Linked DNA regions of Homo sapiens: region 1 is linked to region 2. Evidence: fine-mapped expression QTL. Tissue or cell type: Th17 cells. Region 2 holds a variant in brackets; the other region holds the start of a gene. All regions are shown on one strand. Distances are between the middles of the regions.

What was found. PIP is the estimated chance that this variant, and not a neighbour inherited with it, causes the effect.
Region 1: it holds the start of PPA1, and the variant in region 2 is fine-mapped to the expression of PPA1 in Th17 cells (Schmiedel 2018, PIP 0.95).

What each region holds. Positions count from the first base shown.
Region 1 is chr10:70,230,198-70,238,197 of GRCh38, forward strand. PPA1 (inorganic pyrophosphatase 1) reads right to left here and starts at 3,232. Exons shown (of 11, transcript NM_021129.4): 1 at 3,067-3,232; 2 at 144-202. The coding sequence starts at 3,130. RefSeq lists a silencer at 2,874-3,443.
Region 2 is chr10:70,996,634-71,004,892 of GRCh38, forward strand. It overlaps LOC105378350 (a long non-coding RNA gene), which reads left to right. Exons shown (of 3, transcript XR_001747493.2): 2 at 877-1,060; 3 at 2,376-2,512. LOC105378351 (a long non-coding RNA gene) reads right to left here. Exons shown (of 3, transcript XR_946048.4): 2 at 7,843-7,951; 3 at 6,482-7,137. Among named protein-coding and RNA genes, the nearest start is that of LINC02622, 62 kb to the left of the region's middle. The variant T/TTGTGTGTG (reference allele first, on the strand shown) is at 3,285.

The DNA.
Region 1 (8,000 bases), 770 kb before region 2:
CACGCCCAGCCTAATCAACAGACCTTTAGCTCACAGCACAACGAGGCATTTTAAGCACTTGTTGAGAGACATATAAGAAAATTCATATGTAGAACTAGCTGATCTGAGTAAAGAGACTGTGTCCAAAAACAAGGATGCCTTACCTTATCTGCATAAATTGGAATATCATGAAATGGAGATATATATTGTCCTTTCTCATTTTCTGCAAAATAAATTAGAAAAAGTTATTACTATAATTAATTGTATTGCTAAATGCCCACAGTACACATTTTTTTTTTCTGAGATAAGGTCCCTTACTCTGTCACCCAGGATGGTGTGCAATGGTGTGATCTTGGCTCACTGCCACTTCTGTTTCCCTCTTGAAGGCTCAAGTGATCCTCCAGCCTCAGCCTCCTGAGCCGCTGGAACTACAGGCATGAGCCACTACGTCTGGCTAATTTTTGTGTCTTTTGTAGGGAGGTGGTGTTGCCATGTTCCCCAGGCTGGTCTCCAACTCCTGAGCTCAAAGCAGTCTGCCCACCTCAGCCTCCCAAAGGGCTGGAATTACAGGGGTGAGCCACCGCACCCTGCACCCGACCAGTACACATTTTTAAACCAAGATATTATTCTTACACTAGAAAAACTGTTTGTATACTTCACTTCTCCTGACTGTACTCCCAGGCTAGGCTGGGTTTACATCCTATGCACTCTGTAGGCATCTAATAAGTACTAATCTCTATAGTGAGAGCAGAGACTACTGAGGACACAAAAGGCGATTAAATTGTTTTGGACTGATCTTACATCAGTTAAGTTTACAGAACCATTATGAAGTACTTGGGAGGAAGGGAGGGGACCACTTTACTAAACAATGTTGCTAAAAGTGGTGTTCCCAGAGACAGCCAGCCATCTTAGATTATGACTTTCTTTAAGGATAATCAAGTTGCAACAAACATCTTCACAAATAATTTCTATTATATTCTAGATATATATTACTAATATATTCTAGAGGCCTAACTATAGCCAAAAAGTAATTTTAAAACTTCTTCAGTATTCTTTAGGAAACCTACTGTCCACATCGCATCCCTTCAAGTTTAAAAATCAAAGTGGAGGCCAGGCACGGTGGCTCACGCCTGTAATCCCAGCACTTTGGAAGGCCAAAGCAGGTGGATCACTGGAGGTAAGGAGTTCAAGACCAGCCTGGCCAACATGGTGAAACCCCGTCTCTACTAAAAATACAAAAATTAGTCAGGCATGGTGGCAAGTGCCTGTAATCCCAGCTACTTGGGAGGCTGAGGCAGGAGAATCACTTGAACCCGGGAGGCTGAAGTTGCAATGAGCCAAGATCATGCCACTGCACTCCAGCCTGGGCAACAGAGCGAGACTTTGTTTCAAAAAACAAACAATAAAACATAAAAGTCCCTTTAGGGCCAATTGTGACTTTGCAGTCTGTCCAGCCCTTTATCAGTTTTAAAGAAATTGACAAATGTAATATTATAAAGCTTAAAAAAGTTTATTTCTATTAAGGAAGGATAAAGCACTTAAAATTGGATAACTATGTAGTGGGTTCTAATTATTAGTATTTCTTAAGTTCCAGAGAGTTCCACTTGATAAAAACAGTTACTTCAGCTAGTGCCAAATTCTAGGAGTAGCTTTGGTCTCCCATAACGGCCACCAAATATTAATTGCAAATAAATAACCTAAGTAAAAGCAGTGTGTTTGTTCTGCATATATAGCTTGAAGATCCACCCCTCACCTTCAAACCAGACAGTCACCTCTGTAAGCCTTTCCTACAGAGAAATTCTGGAGCCAACACTATTTCCAGAAAAACAGTCCCATGAATTATTAGTCAAAAGTTACTGGACTGTCCTTGCTGCTTAATTGCAAAATTAAATAAAATGGAGAGTGGGGGGTAGTTCTCACCCTTCCTGGATTTTACCTGATAGTTAACCTTTGGCTAGATGTGTAAGCTTTACAGTTCGCTTTCCTTTTCCTCCCGCACCAGGCTACTTTTTGTTCCTTCAATGCCTATTCATTCGTCTCCTCTACTCCCCGCTTCCCCTTCCTTCATACACCAACTCAGAGTTCGAGGCACCTGCCCATTTCCTTCCAAATAAAACTGTAAAGAGGTTACAATAGAAGCGCCTGTGGTGACACATTTACGAACGCCTCCGTTATCGCCCATAATCTACTCCTAGTAGCTGGGGGTGGGGGGAGTAAGAGGATAAAGAAAAACCCCAAGTAGCTTTCCTCCACCTACAAGGCCAAAAAAACGTGGTGCCCTAAGGAGCGTGGAGGGCGCCAGCATGCAGCCTCCCGGTTTCCCCGTGCAGCCCTAGGTGCAGGACCCGGGGTAGGTACCCCCTAGACGCCGAATCCTGCAAAGGTAAAAACTTGGCACTTTCTCAGTCTTGTTTCCAGACTGACGTCATCTGTTTGATTTGAGGGAAACAGCTTTCTGTTTCATAAGGAGCATTCCCAGCATCGGCGCTGAGGGAAAACAGGCGGCGCAGAGGCAGGAGCACGACCGGGCCGCGGAGGACCGGTCCAGCGCCTTCACAGACGGCTCCCGATCCGGGCCTCAGTTTTCCCGTCTGTAAAACGAGGGGGTGGACTTGGCTCCGCTCAGCGCCGATAATCTGAGCTACGGCGGCGGAATTAAGGTCTTTAGGAAGTCACTGCCCCCCCCGGCCCGGAGTCGCCTTTTCTCCAAACTGAGCAATCCTCTTACGGGAATTATGTTACTTCCAAGCACCTTTCTAGGGTGGGTCGGTGATTTCCTTTTCCCAACAGACCCTGTCAGAGCCAGACACCTGCAAAACTAGCTGGGCCCAGGTTCGGGTACCCCGAGGCGTGACAAAGGGACCATCTCCGTTCAGCGGGGAGGGATGGCCGGAGGCGACCCTCGCCGCCCCGACCGGCGGCGGCAAGTATGCAATGTGAGGCCGGCCAGGCCCCACAACGCGCCCGAGGAGACGGGCCCGCGTCGGAGACCTGGGGCCGAGCGCGGGCCGCACCCTCCCGGGGAGGCAAGGCCCGGGAATGAATGGGCGGACGGGCGCGGAGGGGCCACGGGCCGCAGACACTCACTGAGGAAGACTCGGTACTCCAGGGAGAAGGGCGCGGCGCGCTCCTCGGTGCTGAAGCCGCTCATAGTGCCGGAGTCCTGCCGCCGCCGCTGCCACAGAGCCACCAGCCCGCACGCGGCGCCGACTGACAAGGAGAGAGCCCCACGCCTGCGCACTGCGAGCACTGGACCGGCGGGCGGGGCGGGGAGCGCCTTTAACGCGGCTCTGCTAGTGTTCCCACCCCCGCCGGGCCAACCCCGTGCGCAGGCGCACTCCGCCAGGCCCGGGTGTCCGCACTCCCCAGCCCCGCCCCTCGGGCCCAGCCTCCGCGATGGCAGCTAGGGCTCAGAGGCTGGGCCACGTGGCTGCCGCCGGCGCTGGTTCTGTTCCTTCGGCTTTGGGCTCTGACCCGGGAGGGCAAATGCGCAGGCTCTAAGCTTGGACTAGCTAGGAGTTGACCGCCGACCACGCACACAGGGAACTCACCTTTGATTCTCACACACTCCTCCCCGCAGTCCTATTCCTTATCTCAAAAGGCGTTGATAAGTCACCTGCTTCCCCAGACAGGCTCTGCTTGCGGTCTTAAAGGTGAGCATTTTTCTGATCCGTCGTAACAAAGTTGAGCCATATTACTGACACCCCTAGTGGCTACTAGTAAGGTACTCGCTTCTCCACTTTCTATAATCTCTCTCACTCCGTTGCTTATCTGGGAAGTGAAGATAATAATATAACTATTTCATGAGTTACTGGGATGATTACCCGAGTTAATACACGTCAAATGCCTGAAGCAGAGCCTGTATCTTTGTAAACAATCTGGAAGTTGTTACTGTCACCCTCCCCAGTGGGGGAGGATTTACGCCCCCGCGCCCCCCGCCCCCTCCATCCCCCCTGCCACCCTACTTAACCCACCTGGGTCTCCAGGGGCTTCAGATGGAAGCACTGGGAAGGTCCAGGCGTGAGCTAGAGTCCCGTGAAGGAGTGTTCTCAGGGACAGGCTCTTCTGATCTTGATTTCCTGTTTATATTCCATCATATCAGGCCAGACCCCAAAAACTAAAGTCTGATTGAGGCAGTGGGAAAATATTTGCATCACTTACCTCCCCAGGAATACATGTAAAAGAAAAAAAGTATATCCACAATCCTAAATATAAATTAGCAAATTATTATTCACATTTCAAAGAATGCCTGGTTTTATTTATTTATTTATTTTAATTTCATGGCCAGGATTTCTTTAAATAACTTTTTCTAGAACATTAAAGATAATGTGCCTTAATGACATTTTGAATTAAACCCTTTTTTCCAAACAATGTCTATTGTAAAAAATGAATATTAAATGAAAACCTAGTAAGATCTCCAGTTAGTTATGGTGTCGCTCCCTTTGTCTCCATCCAACTCCCAAACCTCACTGACACCCATTAATTTTCAGAAGGCTGTGATTCACTGATTTTTTGAACATTTCACCACACTGTTTTACTGCTGTTAAAACAGAAGGGCAGGAAAAAAAATTAGCGAAGCAATAGTTTAGTCAATAATTAGGGTCAAGGCCAGGCGCGGTGACTTACGCCTTCAATCCCAGCACTTTGGGAGGCCGAGGTGGGCGGATTACCCGACGTCAGGAGTTGGAAACCAGCCTGGCCAACACAGTGAAACCCTGTCCCTAGTAAAAATACAAAAATTAGCTGGGCGTGGTTGCACGCGCCTGTAATCCCAGCTACTCGGGAGACTGAGGCAGGAGAACACTTGATCCCGAGAGGCGGAGGTTGCGGTGAGTTGAGATCACGCCAGTGCATTCCAGCCTGGGTGACAGAGCGAGACTCTGTTTCAGAAAAAAAAGTAGGATCAAGTTCAAAGAATATTTTAAGGGGATGCTCTTTTGATTGAACTGCTCTATCACTTTTCTGCCTTTGAGCAGATGGAACCAATTTTCTTGGAAAAACCCAGACTCTCATCTGTGACTGACTTAAGAAGACAGCAGTGATGCAATAATAATGTTCTACATACACTTTCCCTTTGCCTCCTGCCAGCTCAGAGCAAGATAATAAAGTCTCACTGACCTCCAGACTTGCACACTGGCTCTTGTTTCATCGAATGTATTCAGAGAGCCAGTCATTATCAGGTCTGGTAAAACACCCAGCCCTGGTGAATTGTAACTTTCCTTTGCAGGCAAGTGTAGTGAGCCCATAGGCCCAAAAGGACCTTGGTCTACCATGTCTCCCTAGGGCCTAGCACAGTACACAGCCTAGAGTAGATGTTTAGTGAATCTTTGCTGGACGGATAGGTAGAGGAATTAATGTAAAGGTGGAAAATACCTTCTTAAGTACATTAGTTTGACAAAGAAGGAGTCCATCTCTTCTCAAATATTATCTTTCTCACTCAGTGACCAAATCTAGTGGCACTTTTCAGTCCATATCCTGTCCCCTTTGCTGTGGGTGACCCTGTTGGGTGTCTCTAATTTCCTTCTTTGGCTTGCGACTACATTCTCTTCTTTTTTTTTTTTTTCTTTTTTGAGACAGAGTCTCACTCTGTCACCCAGGCTGGAGTACAGTGGTGTGATTTCGGCTCACTGCAACCTCCACCTCCCAGGTTCAAGTGATTCTTGTACCTCAGCCTCCTGAGTAGCTGGGATCACAGGCATGCACCACCATGCCTGGCTAATTTTAGTATTTTTAGTAGAGATGTGTTTTCATCATGTTGGCCAGGCTAGCCTCGAACTCCTGGCCTCAAATGATCTGCCCACCTCAGCCTCCCAGAGTGTTGGGATTACAGGCGTGAGACACGGTGCCAGGCCACGACTACATTCTCTTCTCGTGTTCTTCCTACTTCTTTTTTTTTTTTTTTTGAGATGGGGTCTCGCTCTGTCGCCCAGGCTGGAGTGCGGTGGTGCGATCTCGGCTCACTGCAACCTCCGCCTCTCGGGTTCAAGCAATTCTCCCGCCTCAGCCTCCAGAGTAGCTGGGATTACAGGCGCCTGCCACCACGCCCAGCTAATTTTTTGTACCTTTAGTAGAGACCGGGTTTCACCATGTTGGCCAAACTGGTCTCGAAGCCCTGACCTCGTGATCTGCCTGCCTCGGCCTCCCAAAGTGCTGGGATTACAGGCATGAGCCACCACGCCCGGCCCATTCCTACTTCTTTGCTACTCATTTCTCATTCTCCTTCTCAGCCTTCATTTCATCATCTTAATCATCATTGTCTTTCTTATTTCTCATGTTCTCTCTCTCTCTCTAGAGCAATACTCTTTGTCTAGATTATCTCATGTATATCTCTGGCGTCAGCTACCACCTAGAGGTCCTATAACATGAAAACTTTCAAATCTATAACTAACTCTTATTTAACACTTACTGTGGTCATGCTCTGTGATAGGTGGGTAGGGATGTAGCCCTACTAGGCCTTATAGTCAGAACTTATAGTCTAGAAGAAAGACAGACTTCAACAAATAATTATAATAAATTTGGGTGAGTAGAATGATATAGGAAGTACAGGGCATTACATTATGGGAGCAGAAAACCTCTTCAAGGAAGTGACCTGTAACCTGCAATCTGAATGATGACATGGAATTAATAAGGCAAAGGGGACAAGGCAAAAGCCAGAAAACGGTTAGGTGAGACTAGGCCGGGCGCGGTGGCTCATGCCTGTAATCCCAACACTTTGGGAGGCCAAGGCCGGCGGATCACGAGCTCAGGAGTTCGAGACCAGCCTGACCAACATGGTGAAACCCGTCTCTATTTAAAAATATACAAAAATAAGCTGGATGTGGTGGCACGCACCTGTAATCCCAGCTACTCAGGAGGCTGAGGCAGGAGAATCTCTTGAACCCAGAAGGCAGAGGTTGCAGTGAGCTGAGATCACACCACTGCACTCCAGCCTGGCAACAAAGCAAGACTCCGTCTCAAAAAAAAAAAAAAAAAAAAAAGAAAGCGGTGAGACTAGAGAAATAGTCAGGGCCAAAAGCTAGAAAGCCTTGGAAGGCACGATATGAGGATTGAACTTTCTCCTAAGAGCAATGGGAAACTTAAGAAGGGTTTTTAATGGGAAAATAACATGATCAGAATTGCATTAAGAAAAGGTACTATCAGCAGCTTAGAACTTGGATTGAGGTTTAGTAAGACTAGAGGCAGGGAGACCAATGCAGTCCACTGCAGGGCCCCAGATGAAAGGTGATGGTGGTTTCCTGAACTTGGGCGGCAAAAGAGAAGGCTGATTACAGAGCTGTGTTCAAGGTAGAATCAATGGAATTATTGATTGAATAGTGTGGAAGAGGAGAGAGGTGGAGATCTGAGGATGAGTCCCAGGTTTCTGGCTACAAGAACTGGTTGAGTTGAATGGTATGTCATTTACTGAGAGAGAGTGGGTGAGATGGAGGGTATTAATACCAAACACTCCTAGCTCCCTGCCCAATGGCCATATTACCTTCTCTTTTCTAACAGAATCCTGATTTTGTTCAAGAGACTGGATGTGGTGGTTCATGCCTGTAATCCCAGCACTTTAGGAGGCTGAGGAGGACGGATCACCTGAGGTCAGGAGTTCAAGACTAACCTGGCCAACATGGTGAAACCCCGTCTCTACTAAAAATACAAAAATCAGCTGGGCGTGTTGGCACGTGTCTGTAATCCCAGCTACTCAGGAGGGTGAGACAGGAGAATCGCTTAAACCCAGGAGGCAGAGGTTGCAGTGAGCCAAGATCACGCCATTGCACTTCAGCCTGAGCAACAAGAGCAAAACCTCTGTCTCAAAAAATAAATTAAATAAAATAAAAAGAAGCCACTCTCCTGCGCACACCTTTGCCTCAGGGCAGCCAGCCCTTCCTTCATCTTCATGAAATGAAGTTTTTTTTGTTTGTTTGTTTTAGTATTTATTGATCATTCTTGGGTGTTTCTCAGAGAGGGGGATGTGGCAGGGTCATAGGATAATAGTGGAGAGAAGGACAGCCGATAAACACATGAACAAAGGTCTCTAG
Region 2 (8,259 bases):
GGGGCAGAATGAGCTGCCATGAGCCAGTTTCACCTGAGATGGTTGTACCATGAACCTTGGGGACCTGGGGACCAGCCCAACTCAGCTGACCCTGCTGCAGGACTGTGGGCATGTCACCTCCTACTGCCAAGCTGGCTGTGGGCTGTGGCCCTTTGCTGCCCTCTTCACACTCAGGTGGGCTTCATGCCTTTAGCACTGCAGGAGGCCACTCTTGTCAGGTCCTTGGTTCCCCATGCTTTAGGATGTGACCTGCTTGACTTGTGCCCCTGAGGCACTGAGTCAGAGCCTCCTTCCCAGGGGAACAGGGACCTGAGAGGCACCCAGCTAAGTTCCCTGACTATGCATCCTCAGGGCACTTGGTGAAGGGAGGTAGTTGTACCAGCAGGTACTCAACAAATAATACTGTTCGCCTAATGAATGAAAAGGATGATAACAATGTCCAGTCAGGCATCCCAGCTCATGGAGATGTGAACATGAAGCGGCTAGTTTTCCCCCCAGTAACTGTCGATACCCTGTTAACACACCCACCCTGGAGGATCGAGCTCCATTAACCACAGCTTCCTGACTTGTTTATTAAGTAGTCTTACTCCCGTTCTCTAAAAGCCAGTTCTGTTTATTTAAATCCTGCAGGCTCCCATTTAATTCAAGGCTCTTGCTGTCCTACTCCCCATCTTTGACATCCAGGAGGGAAAACACTCCCCTCCTTTCTAGATTCCAGTCTCTTCTGATATTGGTGGGTGGTGGGGTTGGGCAGGATGGGGCAGGCAGTGGAGGGTTGGCTGCCTGGGCTTGTCTGGGAGGCCCTGTGGGGAGCTGGGCCCCACATTGGTGGTCCTGTGGACGTCCACGTGAGCCCTTGCTCTCCTCTCTTCCCAGCTGCAGCCTTGAACATCATCCTCTGGACAGCAGGATGCCCCTGTCCACTATCTCCATCCTGGCATCATCGTCATAAGAACCATCATTTACTGAGAGTGTACTATGTGCCAAGTGCTGTTCACACCTCAGTGCTCGTGCTGATGACAACCCTGTGAGCTAGTCCTAGTTTTTCCGCATTTCACAGGTGAGAAAATGCACACTTAGGAGGTGTAGCAACTTGCTCAAGGCCTCTCAGAAGCAGCATTTATACCCAGGCCTGCCCACTTCCAAGGCCCAAGCTCCACAAAGCCTCTGTGGCTGAGTGTGGGGCTGGTTCTCCATGTGGTGGGAGAGCTGGCTTTTATCAGGGGTCCCCCAGGAGCGTGCTCTACCCTCAAAGCCCCTCTTTCCCCAGGAGGGTCAGGAAAGAGGAATGTTGAGATGAGACTCCCTATACCCTGAAACCCCTAGGGCAAGGAGCAGGGTCTCTAGGTTCTGGGCTAGGAATACCACCAGCACATTTAGGCCAGAACAAGAAAGAATCTCCTGATCAATGGCTCTTGTTGGATTTGAGGAAGGGGGTCCAGGGGGCTTTCTGGGCCACGTCCATGATGCCCTGGGATCCTCGCTGTTGCTCCTCCTGGCCCAGGAACTCTCAGTGGGGCTGGGGCTGGGAGGCGTCCATGAATCAGGGGGCAGAGGAAAGGGAAAGCATGTGGAGGGGCCGGGAAGGAGTGCTGAGACCCACCTTATGGTATGGCACACTGCTTCCTTGCAGGCCTCGCCCCATTAGCTCAGGGTTAATTACACCAGCAGGACAGGGATGCTGTGGCAGGCAGGAAAGCTTTTCTGGGAGTGTCCCAGCCTCACAGTTGACATGTGCAAGCCGCACTCGTGTCTCCTGACCAGGATACCTTTGTTATGGTGAGGCAGGGAGAACGAGACCATTTTTCAAATCAGACGGGGGTCCCTCCTCCAGGGACTTCAGAAACACCCCCTATGCCTACCACAGGGCCCAGCTCAGACCCTCTGCTCAGACCCTGGCTACCCTCCCCCATCCCTAAACCACTCATGGGACCTCTTTGCACAGAGGTATTATGGTCACAGGGATGGGTGGACCCAGGAATGGATGGGTTCACTCTTTGGGCCCAGCCTTTGCCTGTACTGAAAACATCCAGTTTGAGTTCTGCCTGCACACCTTGAAGCAGGTAATGCTATCAGACACCTCAGGTCACTCAGCCATACCTCTCCCTCCTGGGCTGACCAGCTCTACACAGGCTGGTAGCCTCCTGATATAGTTTGGAGGCTTGGCCCTTCCAAATCTCACGTTGAACTGTGATCCCCAAATGTTGGAGGTGGGTTTAGTGGGAGGTGTTTGGGTCATGGGGGTGGATCCCACATGAATGGCTTGGTGCCCTCCCCTCGGTAATGAAGGAGTTCTTGCTCTATTAGTTAACCCGAGAGCTGGTTGTTAAAAAAGCAATGTGGCACCTCCTTCCTCTCTCTTGCTCCCCCTCTAGCCATGTGATGCCATCTCCTCTTCATCCTCTGCCATAAGTAAAAACTCGCTGAGGCCTCACTAGATGCAGATGCTGGTGCCATGCTTCTTGTACAGCCTGCGGAACCATAAACCAAATAAACTCCTTTTTAAAATAAATTACCCAGCCTCAGGTATTCCTTTATAGCAACACAAAACAGACTGATAGACCTCCCTCAGGTGCAACCTGACAGTGACTCACCTTACTCCAGGTGCGAATGAGGCCCCCTTGTCATGACGTGAGACATCTGCAGGAATCTAGGTGGCACTTCTGCATGTGCAAATCGGAAATGTGTCAATATGTGTGCAGACACCTGTGTGTGTGTGCACGTCTCTCATGTCTCCCTCTGTCTCTGTGTGTGTGCATATGTCTCTCCTGTCTCTGTCTCTGTGTGTGTGCACATGTCTCTCATGTCTCCCTCTGTCTCTGTGTGTGTGTGTGCATATGTCTCTCCTGTCTCTGTCTCTGTGTGTGTGCACATGTCTCTCATGTCTCCCTCCATCTCTGTGTGTGAATATGTCTCTCCTGTCTCTGTCTCTGTGTGTGTGCACATCTCTCATGTCTCTGTGTGTGTGTACATATCTCTTGTGTCTCCCTATGTCTCTGTGTGTGTGCACATGCCTCTTGTGTCTTCCTCTGTCTCTGTGTGTGTGCACATCTCTCGTGTCTGTGTGTGTGTGCACGCATGTCTCTCGTGCCTCTCTGTGTCTCTGTGTGTGTGTGCACATGTCTCTCCTGTCTCTGTCTCTGTGTGTCTGCACATGTCTCTCGTGTCTCTGTCTCTGTGTGTGTGCACATGTCTCTTATGTCTCTCTCCGTCTCTGCATAGGTGTGTGCGTGCATGTCTCTTGTGTCTCCCTCTGTCTCTGTATGTGTGTGTGCACATGCCTC[T/TTGTGTGTG]TGTGTGTGTGTGTGTGTGTGTGTGTGTGTGTGTAGAGGGCAGTTAATGCCCACAGGCAACCTTTGACCAATGGGAGATGAAAACTAATGAATAAATACTTCCTGTGTTTATTGCCCTCGGGGCCTGTCTTAGTTCAGGCTGCTATAACAAAATACCTTAGGCTAGGTAATTTACAAGAGAAAGTTATCGTTCACAGTTCTGGAGGCTGGGAAGTCCAAGATCAAGTGTGCCAACAGAATCAGTGTCGTGGCAAGGGCTTGGTCTCTGCTTCAAAGATGACGCCTGTTGCTGTGTCCTCATATGGCAGATGGGGTAAATGAGCTCCCTCAAGCTTTTATTAGGGCACTAATTTCATTTATGAGGGGTGGGGAAGCCCTCATGACCTAATCACCTCTCAAAGGTCCCCCTTCTTTTTTTTTTTTTTTTTTTTTTTTGAGACAGAGTCTTGCTCTGTCACCCAGGCTGGAGTGCAGTGGTGCAATCTTGGCTCACTGCAAACTCCTGGGTTCATGCCATTCTCCTGCCTCAGCCTCCCGAGTAGCTGGGATTACAGGATCCCGCCACCACGCCTGGCTAATTTTTTGTATTTTTAGTAGAGGCAGGGTTTCACTGTGTTAGCCAGGATTGTCTCAATCTCCTGACCTCGTGATCTTTCTGCCTCGGCCTCCCAAAGTCCTGGGATTACAGGTGTGAGCCACCGCGCCCGGCCTAAGGTCCCCCTTCTTAATACCACCACCTTGGATGGTAGGTTTCAACATATGAATTTTGTGTGCGGGGGGACAAAAACGTTTAAACCATAGTATTCCTCCCTTGCTCCCCCAAAATTCACGTCCCTCTCACAGGCAAAATACATTCATTCCATCCCAGTAGCCCCACAAACAATAACTCATTTCAGCATCAGCTCAGAAGTCTAAAGTCCAGAGTCTTATCTAAATATCATCTAAATCAGATATGGCTGAGACTTAAGGTACCTCCATCCTGAAGCAAATTGCTTTCCAGCTGTGAACCTGTGAAATTAAACAATTTATGTGCTTTCAAAATGCAACAGTGGGACAGGCATAGGATAGACATGTCCATTACAAAAAAGAGAAGTAAGAAGAAAGAGGTAACTGGTCCCAAGTAAGTCCAAAACCCAACAGGGAAAACAACATTAAATCTTAAAGCCTGCAAATAATGTCTTAGACTTGTTGTCCTACTTCTGGACAAACTGTGGTAGGGGTTGGCTCACGTGGCTTTGGGTGGCCGTGCTCCCATGGCTGTGCTAAGCACAGCCCACACTGCAGCCCTAATGGGTTGGAATCACATGTATGTGGTTCTCCCAAGGTAGAATTACCTGCTGGTGGCTCTACTGGCCTGTAGTCTAAGGGGCAGCTCTAGCTCTGCCCCTGTGGGTCCACTGGACATCACTCTAGTGGAGGATCTCTGTGGTGGCCCCACCCCTGTGGCAGTTCTTGGGCTGGGACCTGAGGTTCTCCAGGGCATCCCTTGAAATCTAGGTGGAGGTAGCCATGTCCCCACAACTTGTTCACTCTGCACACTCCTGGAGTTGGCACTGTGTTGATGCCACCATGGTTCCTCATCTGTGCCTACCTGATAGTTGGCCCAAGCCACACCTGAGCTCTCTTGAGCCACAGCTGGGTGACCAAGGAGCATTGTACAAGAATTTGGGGAGAAGAGCTTTGAAACCATTCTGCCCCCGATGCCCGGGCATTCTGGTAAAGGGAGTGGCAGTCTTGAAGACTGCCAAAATATTTTGGGGATTATTCATCCATTGTCTTGATGAATAGCATCTGGCCAACCTTCACTTGGCCACACACTGTTGGTGTTATCTCTCAAACACACTTTTACATTCTTTACAACCTGGCCAGGCTAAGAATTTTCCAAATCTTTAAGTTCTGCTTCCCTTTTGACTATAAATTGCATCTTTAATTAATTTATATCTTCTTGTGTTTTTACCACAGTCAAGAGAAGCCATGCCACATCCTCAATAACTTTGTTTAGAGATTTCTTCCACTGAATGTCTTGTTTCATTGCTCAGAAGTTCTAGCTTCCACAAAGCACTAGGACAGGAACACAATACTACCAAATTCTTTGCCATTTTATAACAAGGATCACTTTTCCTCCAGTTTCCAATAACATATTCCTCATTTCTATCTGAGACTTCATCAGAATGGCCATTACCATCCATATTTCTATGAACATTCTATTAATGATCACTTAGCTCCTTTCTAAGAAGACTGGGTAAGTGACAAATAGCTTAGCTGATTGGTCAAGATCACAGAAGGGAGCAAGACTGGATGACTGGATACAAGGAAGGCTGGAGAAAGCCTATGGATGGGCCAATGGGAATGAGCCCAAAGTGTGTGGATCTTTGAGTCTCACATTGTTGAGGGCCTTCAACAATGTGGGCCTTCTACAAGGGCCCTCAACAATCCGGTGAACAGGATGACTGGTTCTATGGAGGAGTTCCTCTTCATGGCCACTCCAGGGAGATTACTAATTTTAGGCATGGGCCCAGGGCTAGCAGCCTACATCTGGAAGAGTCTGGGGACCAGGGAGAATAGAATAGATGCATTTCCTTGAGAGTAGGATGTAGGGGGGTAAACTGAATTCACCCCCAAGGCATCTCTCCCCATCTCACCAATTCCACCCTAGCTGTAAACACAGCCCTAGCGGACTGGTTTGGCCCCTGCTTTAGGGAGAGCTCTTTTCTACCCAACATAAAACTTACTCTTGCCAGCCCAGACTCCCAAAGTCCTGCCATAGTCCAGAAAGCCCTCAGTGATCCTCTCCTTCTTGGCCATGTGCTATTCATTCATTCACTCATTCATTCATTCATTCATGTACACAACAGATACTTATCAAGCTTCCGTGCTCCACACCCTACATAAAGGCTCTGAATATGCAGGAGCGAATGAAAATGGTTGTGACCCTACCCTTGTGGAGATTATTATAGTCTTTGGGGAGAGGTAGACATTAATCAAATGATCACACAAATAAATATAAAATTACCCTTGGGATTAGTGCTAGGAAGAATTCCATGATTCTCTGAGGACAGATACTATGTGGGACTCCCCTAGCTTGGAACGTCAGGGAAGGTTTCCTTGAGGAGGTGATGACTCAGCCACCTTCTGAAGGATGGGTAGGTTGTATTAGTTAGGGTTCTCTAAAGGGACAGTGCTAACAGGATAGATGTATAGATGAAGGGGAGTTTATTACGGAGTATTGACTCACATGATCACAAGGTGAGGTCCTACAATAGGCCATCTGCAAGCTGAGGTGCAAGAAAGCCAGTCCGAATCCCAAAACCCCAAAAGTAGGGAAGCCAACAGTGCAGCCTTCAGTCTGTGGTCGAAGGTCCAAGAGTCCCAAAGCTGAAGAACTTGGAGTCTGATGTTCGCGGGCAGGAAGCATCCAGTACGGGAGAAAGATGTAGGCTGGAAGACTAAACCAGTCTAGAATTTCCACGTTCTTCTACCTGCTTTTATTCTGGCCACTCTGGCAGCTGATTAGATTGTGCCCACCCAGACTGGGGGTGGGTCTGCCTTTCCCAGTCCACTGACTCAAAGGTTAATCTCCTTTGGCAACACCCTCACAGACACACCCAGGAACAATACTTTGCATCCTTCAATCCAGTCAAGTTGACACTCAATAGTAACCATCACAGGGGTACCCAGGTGAAGTGGGGGAGGCAAAGAAAGAGATCTCGGTCCCAGATCTCTGCACCTGGATGCACTCCCTCTTGAAACTGCTTCTCACTGCTTCCAGGCCTGTGTCCTGTGGCCCCCATGCCTCATCAGGAAACTGGGCTCAGAGAAGTTAGCACGTGGGGGGGTCACGATGAGATGGTCCCTGATGGAAAGTAAAATTTCTCTAATGGCAAAGATCATGGAAACAGAGACCCAGCAGCAGAAAACTGAAGGTAATACAGCCTCTTCCCAGAAAGAGGGCCCCCAAGGGACCCTGAGTTACCCACACAAGGGTCGTTTCCACACGGGGAGGCTTCTCCGACATGAGTGGCTCCTTCTGCTATTCTTACAACAGTGGTCCCATCTCTCTCTCTCACTCCGATCGCTCCAGATGGTTCCAAAGGCTTTCCCCGTGGGCCTGACTACTTTACTGGTGCTAGTTAGTGATCTCCCACACTTTCCTGAGGACTGTTTTCTAGGAGCGCCCTTCAGGGAGCTTGGCCTGTGTCCTCCTGTTGGGGAAGCAGGAGCTGTGATTTGCCCCCAAGCCCAGCTGGCTGCGGAGCCCATGGTGCTCCCTTCCAGGTCCCTGCCGCATGCTGTGTGGACAGGCAGCATCTGGGTCCTGGCCATCCCCTGGTCCTGCCTCTGCCACTGTCTTGCTCTGTGACCTGGAGCCAGACCTGCCCCTTTCATGGCCCCATGAGGAGAAAGCCAGTCCTGTTTCTCACTGTTGCCAGGTCTGCGTGTATTTGGGTCTGAAAGACAGACAAGACGAGGGGGACCATGTATCAGGAGTAGGGTAGTTCTCAGCCAGGCAGGCTCCTGCTCTGCCGGCAGCAAGGTGGCCGTCCTGCAGGGAACCTACCTTGGGGAGGGCAGCCTTGCCCCTTCCCCAGCAGCCCCAGATGGAGCACCTGTCACAGCCAGACCAGTGTTCATCCACCTCTCAAAACTCCGGGCTGTCCCCACCTGACCTGGAAAGGGTCAAGATGAGAGACCTGAGAAGAAAGGAGAGGTTTCTCTTTGTGCTCACTCTCCCTAAGGAGAAAAGCTTAAAGCTGGGAGGCAGATGGCGCCTCCTCTCTCCTCTGTGAGCTGAGAGCCCAGATCCTCTGCCCACTGGCTCTGCCTCTACTCACCCATTGGTCTTAGCTGCCCTCTCCCAAGCCCATCCCTGTGTGGCCCCCCTGTTTGGCCAGTCCCAGGAGATCCTAGGGTCCCAGGTGGAGGCTGACTGGCATCCCCACAGCCCTGCCTTTGTGTGCACCTTCATGCCCATCCT